2 linked regions of the Homo sapiens genome follow. The protein of the gene in region 1 purifies or fractionates together with the protein of each later gene. This does not show direct contact. Each region holds a gene or a part of one and is shown on either strand. Other genes may lie near its edges.

Region 1 (7,594 bases):
GAGGAATAGCCCAGCCCAAGCCAGGAGGGGTGGGGAAGGATCTCAGTTCAAGGGTGACCCCTGGGCCAGGCACCCATGGCTGGCCATGCTTGAGGAATGTTGTTGGAATGATGTTAGATAAGTTGACTTGGTCAGTGTTAAAATTCCTCTATTGCAGATGAGGAAACTGAGGTTCAAAGAAGGGAAAAGACTTCTCCCTTGCAAAAGGGGTCAGGGATAAGATTTGAACCAAGTCTGTCAGCCACAGGCTCACAAAGCAAGACCCCTCTAAGCTCCAAACACTCACCAACGGTTACAGTTGTCCCAGTACGTTCCCAAGACTGGATAGATACGACCTCCATGCATACATCCTGTTGGAAGGGAAGAGAAGAGAAGTGGAACCAGAACCAGAGAGGATGGGCTAATTGGCCAGGTCCTTGGAGGTCAGGTACCTTGAACCTTTCCAAGATTCTCTCTCTTTCTCTCTCTCTGTCTCACACACACACACACATACCAGCTCTCACTGAAATTAAACTATAACTGAAGACATCACACACACACACACACACACACACCAGCTGTCACTAAAATTAAACTATAACTGAAGGCATCACACACACACACACACACATACCAGCTCTCACTGAAATTGAAGCCAAACTATAACTGAAGATATCACACACACACACACACACACCAGCTCTCACTGAGATTAAGCTATAACTGAAGACATCACACACACACACACCAGCTCTCACTGAAATTAAACTATAACTGAAGACATCACACACACACACACCAGCTCTCACTGAAATTAAACTATAACTGAAGACATCACACACACACACACACACCAGCTCTCACTGAGATTAAGCTATAACTGAAGACATCACACACACACACACACACACACACACCAGCTCTCACTGAAATTAAACTATAACTGAAGACATCACACACACACACACCAGCTCTCACTGAAATTAAGCTATACTGAAGACAACACACACACACACACACACCAGCTCTCACTGAAATTAAGCTATAACTGAAGACATCACACACACACACACACATACCAGCTCTCACTGAAATTAAACTATAACTGAAGACATCACACACACACACACACACACACACCAGCTGTCACTAAAATTAAACTATAACTGAAGGCATCACACACACACACACACACATACCAGCTCTCACTGAAATTGAAGCCAAACTATAACTGAAGATATCACACACACACACACACACACCAGCTCTCACTGAAATTAAGCTATAACTGAAGACATCACACACACACACACACACACACACACACACACCAGCTCTCACTGAAATTAAACTATAACTGAAGACAAATCCTGCAGGGTCACACACCAACTGCTGTTTGGGAAGTTCTTCAATGATTCCAACCTGGATTCCTCTTACTTTACTTGGATGCCAGCCACAACATTCCTGGGATCCTTTTCCATTTAAATAAGTTAGGGCTTGGAGATGGGGAGTGGGAGGAGCATGGGGAAGCCAAGGCCCAGAGAAGGTAAGCAACCGTCCTAAGATAACACAGCACTCTTGAGATGACAGCTCAGGTATGCAGTCTGCCGGCCCAAGCCCCATGGAACTGTGGGAAGGAACGCAAGTGATTCTCCTATTGGACAGGGGCAAGTGCATGGAAAAGGATGATGGTGAGGCTGAAAGCAGGAAAAGATTTGACCCATCTCCCAGGTATGAGCAGCCATCTCGGGGCACAGGATCCTAGAATCCTCAGCAAAGGCAGAAAAATGGCTAAGATGACCCTCACCAACCCATATGTGCCTTATCAGCCCAAGAGTGAGTCAGCAGGTGCGGCCAGCACCTTCCGTGTCTGGAAAAGAGACAGGATTGGGAGAAAATGTGGGAGGTTGCCCTTTCCCTGGGCCAAATTAGAATTCTAACCAAGGAGCTTCTTCAGTCTTGCTGGAGAGTAAAGTTCCCAGAGGGGCAGGGAAGAGTCCCAGATTCTACAGAGCTTCCCCTGGAAATGTCAGTGCATCCATCAGCTTTGCTCTTGAGCCTTGCTGAGTCTGAGGTGGACAAAGTGACCCACCCTCCTGGCCATCTTAGTGCCCACCTTGGATCGGGGGAAAAGGGGGTGGCACGCCGAGGCAGAAGTCCCAGAAGTCAGGGCAGCAGTCGGAGACCGTGCGGTTGCAGAAGAGGTCACAGTAACAGATGGCGCCCAGGTAGGGCAGGGCACAGTCGTCGGCACGGCCGCGGCAGCACAGGTCCTGCTCCTGGCAGTACCGGCCTCCCGCGTCCCGGATGCCCCGCAGGTGCAGACCCGGTGCTAGCTCCCGGCGCCCACGACCCTGCTGGGCACCCAGAGCCAAGTGGCCAGCCAGCGGCAGCAACAGCAGTAGCCCCAGTGGACATCGCCACATGGTGGCTCCTGGGCCCTGGGGGGCAGAGATGGTGGGCAGCAGAGACTCCCTGGAACACCAGGGATGAGTCTCCCAGTTTCCTGGAGCTGTGAGTTCAAGAGGGCCCAGCAGGGAGGGAGATCCCGATTCCTGAGTCCCCAGGCAGGACACGGGCAGAGGAGCCCCAGTGTGTGGGCCCTGGCTATAGGGGGATGGGGACTGGGCAGAAACGGAGCCCCTCCCTGACCTAGGCAGGGACCTTCAAGGACAAGGAAATGAGGGTGGTGGCATTCTTGGTGCTCCCACCCAACACTCATCCTGTGGACCCAAGGTCTTCTCTCCTGTCCTAGGTCTCTCTGCCCTCCAGCAGCCTCCATCCCTGACCTGGGTCCTTGACTTTGTGCTTTCCTGTCTCCCCCGGTCTTTTGGGTACACCTCTCTTCTGTTCCTGTGTCCCTCTGTCCCCCTCCACTGTCCCTCTCTCTGCCATCTGTCTTGGTTCCTCTACCTGCCCCCTCCCCCTGTTTCTTCTCTGTCTACACCTTCCGCCCTCTGAGCAGGGGAGCGTCCCTACCTGGTGAAGGTGTGGGCTGGGGCCCAGGCTGGCCCGCGCGCCTCCGCCTCCTGGCTCTGCGACCGCCGGACGCTCAAAGTCAAGAGAGGAGCGCGGGGCGGGGCGCTTTTTGTACCGCCCGCCCTCTGCACCGCCCCAGCAGTGGCGGAAGGGAGGGGCGCCTGGCTTGTACCTGGAGTAACTACCCCACAACTCATGGGCTTGCAGGGTGGAGAAACGACAAGCACACGATTGTCCTGGCTGGGTCTCCTGTGGCGGAAGCCGTTCCCTTAGGGGAACCCCAAGCAGGAAGGATTGCGGTTTCACACTGGGAAGGACTTCACAGTGGGCATCCCTGTGGAGCTGAGGGGCTCTGGTGGAGAAGGGGGGATATGGGCAGCCGAGCTCTGGGTTATGGACACAAGTTTGGGAAATGATGGGGAGGGCATGTGAGGCAAAATTCTGTAAGCCTCTCCTGACCCCTCGGTAATAAAAATAGCCATGCACACCCCTCTCCACTGTGCCCCCTAGGCTTGGGTGCCGCCCCCCTAGCCACCCCAGCTCCTAGGAATGATTGGAATTCCAGGAGTATGATCCTTAGGTGCCCTGGGCGGCTCATCCCTGGGAGGTGGGCAGGGTGTGGGGGTGGCCTCTGCACCCTTTGATCCCTTGTTGAGTCTGCCTTCCCTTGCCTGCTTGGGCCCCTAGACGAGCACTGCCCTCTCTAGCAAACCCAAGGGCATCCTGCTTGGCACCTGTCCCCCTCCAAGGGTCCAAAGGCAAGGGCCCTACCAGCTGGCACCCCCTGCAGAGGCCCTCCTTCCTGCCGCAGGCATAAACCTTTCTTTGCCCAGGCTGGCCTGGGACCCAAACAATGGGGCTTCTGTCCCGCCAGGTCTGCCGTCACCTTTTACCTCCCTATTGTGCAACGCCCTCTCTTCAACAGGTTGGGCCCAGGCCAGAGGTCTCTACCAGCAAAGAGGATAAAAGAGACTACACCTGGACAAACCCTCCCAGGCCCAGGCCTGAGCCTCACATGTGGCCCCGGGGAAGGCATCAGGGACTCCCTTTGCCCTCCCACTGACCTCCCTGCAAACCTCCCCCAAACCAAGGGGCATCCTCAGCTGGCCAGACCCTGGGGGAAGGGAGAGAGCCGAGGATCACCGGCACCTGTGGCTGGGTTACCCCTGCCATGGACCACTGGGTGGTGAGTCACCAAGGGGGTCCTGCCCTGGTGGTGGGGGTGGAGGGATAATATCCGGGGGCCCCAGCACTGGCACTAACACACCCAGGAGCTGCCCATCTGCTCCCTGCAGGGACCTGGGAGGACAAAGCCTAGGTGGGAAACTGAGGCTCAGAAGAATGCACTTGCCTGAGGTCGTGCAGCCAGAACACAGGCTCCCTGCCTGCCACCAGCCCACTCCTTTACCCCTAGTCACCCTTAGTCACCCACTACAGGTCTCAACGTGCTCCTGGTTGGGAAGTCTCTTTTCTTATCTAAACTCCATTCATCTTACTGCAGGACGGGCCCCTCGGTATTGGTAAATGTCATATCCTCAGGGTAAGAGATGAAAGCTGCTTTCTTTCAAAAGAGTTCGTGTCCAGAGTTCCTACTTTTATGGTACCTACTTTTTCATGGTTCTGGGGCTGGGGGCTTGTTTAGAGACATCTGGCCTCTCTTTTGCCCAAAATCACACCGCATAGGCTACCCTCGTGAGTCTGGGTGTGTTATCTCTGTGTGCATGTATGCATGTGTATATCTGAGTTGCGGTGTTTGTGGGGGTGTTTCTGCTTCTGCTTGAGTCTGTCAGTCCACATCTGATCGTCTGGGTTTTTTTTGCTTTTTGTTTTTTGTTTTTTTTTGAGACAAGGTCTCACTTTGTCACCCAGGCTGGAGTACAGTGGCGCGATCTCGACTCACTGAAGCCTTGACCTCCTGGGCTCAAGTAATCCTCCCACCTCAGCTTCCTGAGTAACTGGGACTACAGGTGCACACCGCCATGCCTGCCTGAATTTTTTTTGTATTTGTAGTAGAGATGGGGTTTCACCATGTTGCCCAGGCTGGTCTCCAACTCCTGAGCTCAAGCAATCCGCCTGCCTTGGCCTTCCGAAGTGTGTTTACCTGTCTATCTGCTATGTGCCTGTGTATCTGTGAGTCTGGATATTTTGGCTATCTGCCTGTCCTTGTCTGACTGATTGTCTGCTTGTCTATCCATTTACCTGTCCATCTGCTACATACCTGTGCATCTGTGTGTGTGTATCTGTCTGGATGTTGTCTCTGTGTCCATTATGGATCTGTCTGTCTGCCAGCGTGTGTTGTTTGCCTGCATTTGTGCACTTGTTGGCTTGTATGTCTGTGTGTGTGTCCTGCCTGTGCCTCCCTGTCTAAGAGGTGTCTGTGTATCTGTGTGGGAGTTGTGGCCATCTGCCTGTCCTTGTCTGCCTGCCTGTCTGTGCATAAGAGGCAGGGACTCAGAGCAGGGGATGGGAGCAGAGCCAGAGCCTCCCACCATCACTCAGCTTGGCACAGAGCCCGCCCCAGTGGAATTTTGTGACTCACTGGGTTCCTTGGCCGAGGAGGAAAAGGGCAGGGCCGGGGGTGCTGGACACCCCCACTTTCCTTTTCCATGACCCTTTGACCCTTTGCCTCCTAGTGACTCCTAGTGACTCATTGACTTATTATTATTTTTTTTGATGGAGTCTCGCTCTGTCGCCCAGGCTGGAGTGCAGTGGCGTGATCTCAGCTCACTGCAAGCTCTGCCTCCTGGGTTCAAGCCATTCTCCTGCCTCAGCCTCCTGAGTAGCTGGGACTACAGGCACCCACAACCAGGCCCAGCTAATTTTTTGTATTTTTTTTTTAGTAGAGATGAGGTTTCACCATGTTAGCCAGGATGGTCTCGATCTCCTGACCTTGTGATCCGCCCGCCTCAGCCTCCCAAAGTGCTGGGATTACAGGCATGAGCCACCATGCCTGGCCGACTCAATGACTTATTCTTGAGCAAAGTGGGGCCTTATCCAAGGGCCTGGGACAGAGCAGCAGAGGAGGAGACACCAGCGAGACTTCCCCCTCTGAGCCCTTCCGGCTTTTCAAGAGGCAGGTAGCCTAGGTCCCTGTGGTGGTTTTGTCCTCCCTTACTCCGGACCCCCGGCAGCGCAGCCCCTCTCTGGGCGTTGGTACCAACCTGTACCCAGATGCTCCCTGGAGGCCCTCTGGTATTCTCTTACTTTTACAGAGGGAGGTGAAGCCAGAAAGGGACAGTGACAAGCCTAAGAACACACGGCAGAGCAGAGGGCTCTCCTCTCTATGGAGTCCCAGAGCTCCCCACACCCCACAAACTTCACAACTGCTCTAAATGCTCGGAATCAGCCATTCTCCTCTGTGAGCTGAGCAGGGCTTTCTGGGAAGACAAAGACCTGTTGTCTGCTCACCTCAGGTCCCTAGCCGAGGACCTGATACTTGAGGCCTGGGAGTTCAGATGCTCAGGGCCCAAACAGCACCCCATCCAAGGCTGGGGCTCCTTGTGGTTCCCTGTGGTCAGTGGGACATGTCCAGAGCTCAGGTCAGTGCTCCCTGGGACTGCATCTGAGACCCTGTCCAGGCCTAATACTGTAGCCGGTTGGGCCATGTTGTGATATGTTGGGGCTTCCCAGGGCTCATGGACTGTTTTGTAGAAAGTCCCACATCAAGGGCTGCATGACAGTCAGAGTGTGGTGCTGTCATAGCACGCTGGAGCTTGCAGCAGACAAAATTCCAGGCCATGTGGAAGTGTGTTGCGCCACGCAATGGCATGCTTTACTATTTGATTTTCTCATTCATTCAACAAATACTTGTTAAGCATTTACGATGTGCCAGGTTCTGTGCTAGGTGCTGAGTGTACATTGTTGAACCAAACAGATGGAGTTCCTGCTATTGTGGAGTTTGCAGTCTAATGGGAAGAGAGGCCAGGCATGGCGGCTCATGCCTGTAATCCCAGCAGTTTGGGAGCCTAAGGCAGGTGGATTGCTTCAGCTCAGGGGTTTGAGATCAGCCTGGGCAACATGGTGTAACCCTGTCTCTACCAAAAATTAAAAAAATTGCCTGGGTATGGTGGCATGTACCTATGGCCCCAGCTACTCAGGAGGCTGAGGTGGGAGGATTGCTTGAGCCCAGGAGGCAGAGGTGGCAGTGAGCTGAGATTGTGCCACTGCACTCCAGCCTGGGTGACAAAGTGAGATTCCATCTCAAATAATGATGATGATAATAATAATAATAATAACAACGGGAAGATAGACAAATACATAAGCAAACCATCCCCCCGCCCCCCCACCCACAGATCAAGAAGTCATTCCAAAATGTGAAGCGTTCTGAAGATATGCACATAGCGTAAGAACCTGGTGTAATGTGCTGGTCAAGGCGGTCTCAGAGAGGAGATGACGTTTGAGCTGACACCTGAGGGATGAGAAGAAAGCAGCCATTCCCAGGGCCCAGGGGAGGCATCCCAGGAAGCCGGATCAGCATGAGCAAAAGCCCTGAGGCCTGGCACAAGTTGGTCTGCTTGAGAAGCAGGAGAGAGCCCTGAGCATCCGGAGTGCAGCAAGCGAGGTGCACAGAGGAGCAGGAAGGGGCTGGGAGAAGGCTGGGGCCGGATCATGCAGGACAGGCTGGAGGAAGGGGCTT
Region 2 (4,773 bases), on another chromosome or scaffold:
CCTTGCTTCCTGATCAATTCTCCACAGAGGCCAGAGTAATCCTTTTAAAACAGAAGTCAGATCATATCACTCCCCTGCCAAAACCCTCCCACAGCCGTACACTATCTGATTGCATCTACTACTTTCTCCCTTGATGATGATGTCTCAGCCCTGTTTCTGGAAGATGTCACGTACACTCCTGCCTCAGGGCTTTGCAACTGCTGGTTGTTCTGCCTGGCATGTTCTTCCTTCTTGTTATGCAAACAATTCACCTTCTTCAAGTATTTGCTCAAATATCAGCCCTCAGTAAGGCCTTTCCAAGAACCCTATTTTAAACTGCAAACTCTTTCATCTATAGGCGCCCTCTCATCTCTGCATTATTTCTCTCCATAGAATTTATCACCTGCTGATACACTGCTTTTTACTTACTTTGGTTAATGTCTTATCTTCCTATCAAAATGTAAACTACTCAAAGGTAGTAATTTTTGTCTAGTTTGTTTTCTGCTGTATCCCCAGCAACTAAAATACTCAAATTTTTGATGAATGAATGAATATGCCAAATGATTGAATTGTAAAAAACTTTATGAACTGAGAGGTCCTAACTCCAAAAAGAACATTAAAGACGAAGTGTAAGAGCATTACAAATGATCGCCAATACACACAAAGGCAGAGTTGCAGTGAAAATCAACAGCCAGCTGAACTGTGGGTGAAATTCCCTTTATATAAACATGGCCTTATAATCAGATGACCTCAGATGGGTCTCTGGTGTGTACAAAGAAAGCAAAACCAATTTTCCCATGAGTGCCTCTGGACACTCATGTAAGAGTTACAGATGTTGACTACATTTAAACATTTATCATGCTTCCAAAAACATATTTGTAAGAGAAAAAAATATAAAAATAAAAATGTACAAAGTTCTTTATTAAAATAATAGCTTAAATAAATCCTCTGTCAACACCAGACAGAGTCAGTGACTGGATCTAGACTCTAGAGCTTAGAGCTTTTTACATAGTTACATGAAAACATTTGAATCCGTCTTCACAGACAGTGCCACGATGACAATCTGGTTAAAACCAATAAGCCATCTTCCAGATGCAGCTTAAGAGTTCAGGCGAGAAAAGGAACTGAGGAAAATGACTGTACATAATATGGTTCTCATTCTATTTGCCTTTTTTCGTCTTGGCTGTCTTCTCCTTTCTTTTTTTCACATGTTTAGGAATTTTGTTTTTTCTTTTCTCTCTCTGGGCTTCCTTGACCATCTTTTTTCTTTCCTGTAAAAAACAAACAAAAAAGCCAACTTTCATTCATTTGGAGTATGCATTTTTTGTTTTTGTTTTTTGTTTTTTGTTTTTTAGACAGGGTCTTGCTCTGTCGCCCAGGCTGGAGTCAGTGGCGTGACCATGGTTCACTTCAGCCTCCACCTCCTGGGCTCAAGCAATCCTCCCACCTCAGCCTCCTGGGTAGCTGGGACAACAGGTGTGCACCACCACACCTGGCTAGGTTTTTTTGGGGTATTTTTTGGTAGAGATGGGGCTTCGCCAGATTGCACAGGCTGGTCTCGACCTCCTGGGCTCAAGTGATCCACCCACCTTGATCTCCCAAAATGCTGAGATTACAGGCATGAGCCACTGCACCCACCTGGAGTATTATTATGATTATAACTAAATAAAATACACACATAGAAGAATAAAAGTGAGTGTAATGTAAAGAAAAGAAAAGAAAATGATTATGGGTTGGTGGAGGAACTTGGGGTGAAAACTGTCTTTCAGTTTTTTCTTTTTAGAGACAGGGACTCACTCTGTCACCCAGGCAGGAGGGCAGTGGCATGACCATTGTGCACTGCAGCCTCAAGCTCCTGGGCTCAAGCAATCCTCTTGCCTCAACCTCCCCAGTAGCTGAGACTACAGGCATGAGCCACCATAACCGGCCTTGAGCTTCCTCTTTTTTTTTTTTTTTTTGAGACGGAGTCTCTGTCGCCCAGGCTGGCATGCAGTGGCGTGATCTCGGCTCACTGCAAGCTCCGCCTCCTGGGTTCACGCCATTCTCCTGCCTCAGCCTCCCAAGGAGCTGGGACTACAGGCGCCTGCCACCACGCCCGGCTAATTTTTTGTATTTTTAGTAGAGATAGGGTTTCACCATGTTAGCCAGGATGGTCTCGATCTCCTGACCTCGTGATCCACCTGCCTTGGCCTCCCAAAGTGATGGGATTACAGGCGTGAGCCACCGCGCCCAGCTGAGCTTCCTTAATAGAAATGTGAAGACAGCCAAACAGAAATATCCCTAAGAATGTTATTAAATGTTTGCAAATACTTTTCTTTACAAGTTCCATATTCTAACAGAAATAGACATTGGAAAGAGACAAAATATGTGTTTCTAGTAGACATATGAGAAAATATGCTAGCAGCTGAGTATGTCCCTCAGAAGTCTTGGGACCCACATTGTATAAGGTTTAAAGGATTAGACTAAGATGGAATAATAATAGTCACATAGCACTCAGTCAGCAGTGTCTCTATGTCTATGGCTAGGGATTAAAGAAATACAAGAGTCCCTTCTTATCCATGGGGGATATGTTCCAAGACTCCCAGTGGATGCTTAAGACTGTGGATAGTGCCAAACCCTATATATACTATGCTTCTACCTATACATACGTACCTATGATGAGGTTTAATTTATAAATTAGGCACAGTAAGAGATAATAACTAATAACAGAATGGTAACAATATACTATAGTAAAAGTTATTTGAATGTGGTCTCTCTCTCCAAATATCCCACAGTATCATACTCATGTGACAGTAGCTTCTTCATTGGCAGATGCAGCCTCTCTGGTAATTTTTCTATTTTTTAGTCCAAACCTATTCCTGAATCTGTGTAACTATTCCTTACAGTAAATGGCCTGGTGGCACTCATTTCAGGGGAACCCTTGCTGAAACCTTTGAAACCTTCGTATAGGCTCAGTGCTTTCTGGTGCAACATGGTGCCATCAACTGGAAGATGTTTTTGTTTACGTCTTTCACCCACAAATTTCATGCCTTTTCCATCTTAACTAAGCAGTTATCACATGCTATGGTCCTAAGTTTTGCAGTTTGGGGTGAGACAGCAAAACCAGCACAAACATCTTTTTCCTTCTCCACAATGTCACGGATAAAAGATTCTCACCAGCAACTTCAGCATATGATTCTTTTCCTTTTATTTATTTTTTTGAGACAGAATCTCACTCTGTCACCCAGGCTGGCGTGCAGTGGCATGATCAGCTCACTAGAACCTCAAACTTCTGGACTCAAGGGATCCTCTTGCCTTAGCCTCCCAAGTATTTGGGACTACAGGTGCTCATCACCAATGTTTTAATAGAGACGGGGTATCACTCTATTGCCCAGACTGGTCTGGAGTGATCCGCCCTCCTTGGCCTCCCAAAGTGCTAGGATTACAGGCATGAGTTCCTTGTTAAGTCAAGAATGGTCACCTTTCCACTTAAAGGAAGCATTTTATGGCTTCTCTAAAGCATACCTGAAATTCCAACATCACTACTCCTGTAATTTACGGTCATTATTAAGCAAAGTAAGGGTTACTTGCACACAAGCACCACAACATCACAGCAGCTGAACTGATAGCCAAGAAGGCTACTAAGTGACTAACGGGTGGGGAGTGTCGACAGTGTGAAGACGCTGGACCACGTGATGATTCACATTCCAGGCAGGATGGAGGAGGACAGCATGAATTTCATCACACTACTTAGGACGGTGAGCAATTTAAAACTTATAAATTGTTTACTTCTGGAATTTTCCATTTAATATTTGCAAACCAAGGCTGACTGCAGGGAACTGAAACAGTAGAAACTGAAAGCATGGATGGGGGGACTATTATATGGTCTTTCAGATTCCAGAAACATCAAGCTGGGCTATAAATCCCCCTGAAATGGCTCTTCAGTATTTACCCTGGGTCAACTCTAACATCACTTGTACTTCATGTGAAATGTACTGAATTTAGTGCGTGCTCTCTCTAGGCAATGCCCAAGGTGCTCTGATGAGCAGCCCAATCTCAAGATAATGTTACCACCAAAAGTCAAGTTCACACTTAGGTATTAAAACTGTAATTAGAGGTACTTATCAATAATGTTTTCAGCCATCATAATCTAGCTAGATCCTTGAGCAAAGAGAAATAAGAGCGGCTGTGCTCCCACACTAAAGAAAAGGGGAAGGTATTTCATTGCTTACTTTTTTATCAATGTCAGGGTCCGTGGTGTGTTTCTTGGGGCGGGCATGGTCTCCCTGCTCTTCAGAGTCTGTGTCAGAGCACTCAGAGCTTCCAATATCTTCTGAATCAGAACAAGTCCTTTCCTCCACTTGATTTTCTAGGAGTGCAGGGACCTTGAAATTATTAAAGAACCATGTTATTCTAAACAACACACAAACCAAGTTATGTGTTGTTGTTAAATGTGTTAATGCCAGAATTCAGATTTTAGGCTCGCAAATATATGTTAAAAACTAACATCCTGTACTGAAACATCAAAACACCAGAATGAACATCAGGAGGGAAACATGAAAGTAGCCACTCCAAGTAAGGCTCCAGAACATACTCAAATGAAGGAACCAGGGCTTTACTGCGTGACCTAGATCAACAACAGAGCTGTTCTCCTTCTTTCAGCTAATCAGGAGCATTTAGTTGGGATTGGGAAAGAGGCAAAATATACATAGAGGTAGAAAATGAAGATTTATATGGATAACTTCACAGCTGTTTTCCTGTGAACCACATTTCTAGCAATAAACTAATCCAATTGGGAGGGAAAACAATATGTGA

Evidence for each region.
Region 2: the proteins of TINAGL1 (region 1) and RIOK1 purify together in Homo sapiens (affinity purification with mass spectrometry; 3 studies listed by BioGRID and IntAct, with this or other methods). This does not show direct contact.

What each region holds. Positions count from the first base shown.
Region 1 is NC_000001.11:31,571,960-31,579,553, reverse strand, and holds the start of TINAGL1 (tubulointerstitial nephritis antigen-like isoform 1 precursor), read right to left. Parts: upstream 3,040-7,594; 5' UTR 2,959-3,039; intron 2,421-2,958; 5' UTR 2,406-2,420; coding exon 2,096-2,405; intron 1,711-2,095; exon of another isoform or gene 1,657-1,710; intron 1,410-1,656; exon of another isoform or gene 1,366-1,409; intron 351-1,365; coding exon 287-350; intron 1-286. UniProt on the Homo sapiens protein: May be implicated in the adrenocortical zonation and in mechanisms for repressing the CYP11B1 gene expression in adrenocortical cells. This is a non catalytic peptidase C1 family protein.
Region 2 is NC_000006.12:7,413,808-7,418,580, reverse strand, and holds the end of RIOK1 (serine/threonine-protein kinase RIO1), read right to left. Parts: intron 4,344-4,773; coding exon 4,191-4,343; intron 1,251-4,190; coding exon 1,140-1,250; 3' UTR 544-1,139; downstream 1-543. UniProt on the Homo sapiens protein: Involved in the final steps of cytoplasmic maturation of the 40S ribosomal subunit. Involved in processing of 18S-E pre-rRNA to the mature 18S rRNA. Required for the recycling of NOB1 and PNO1 from the late 40S precursor.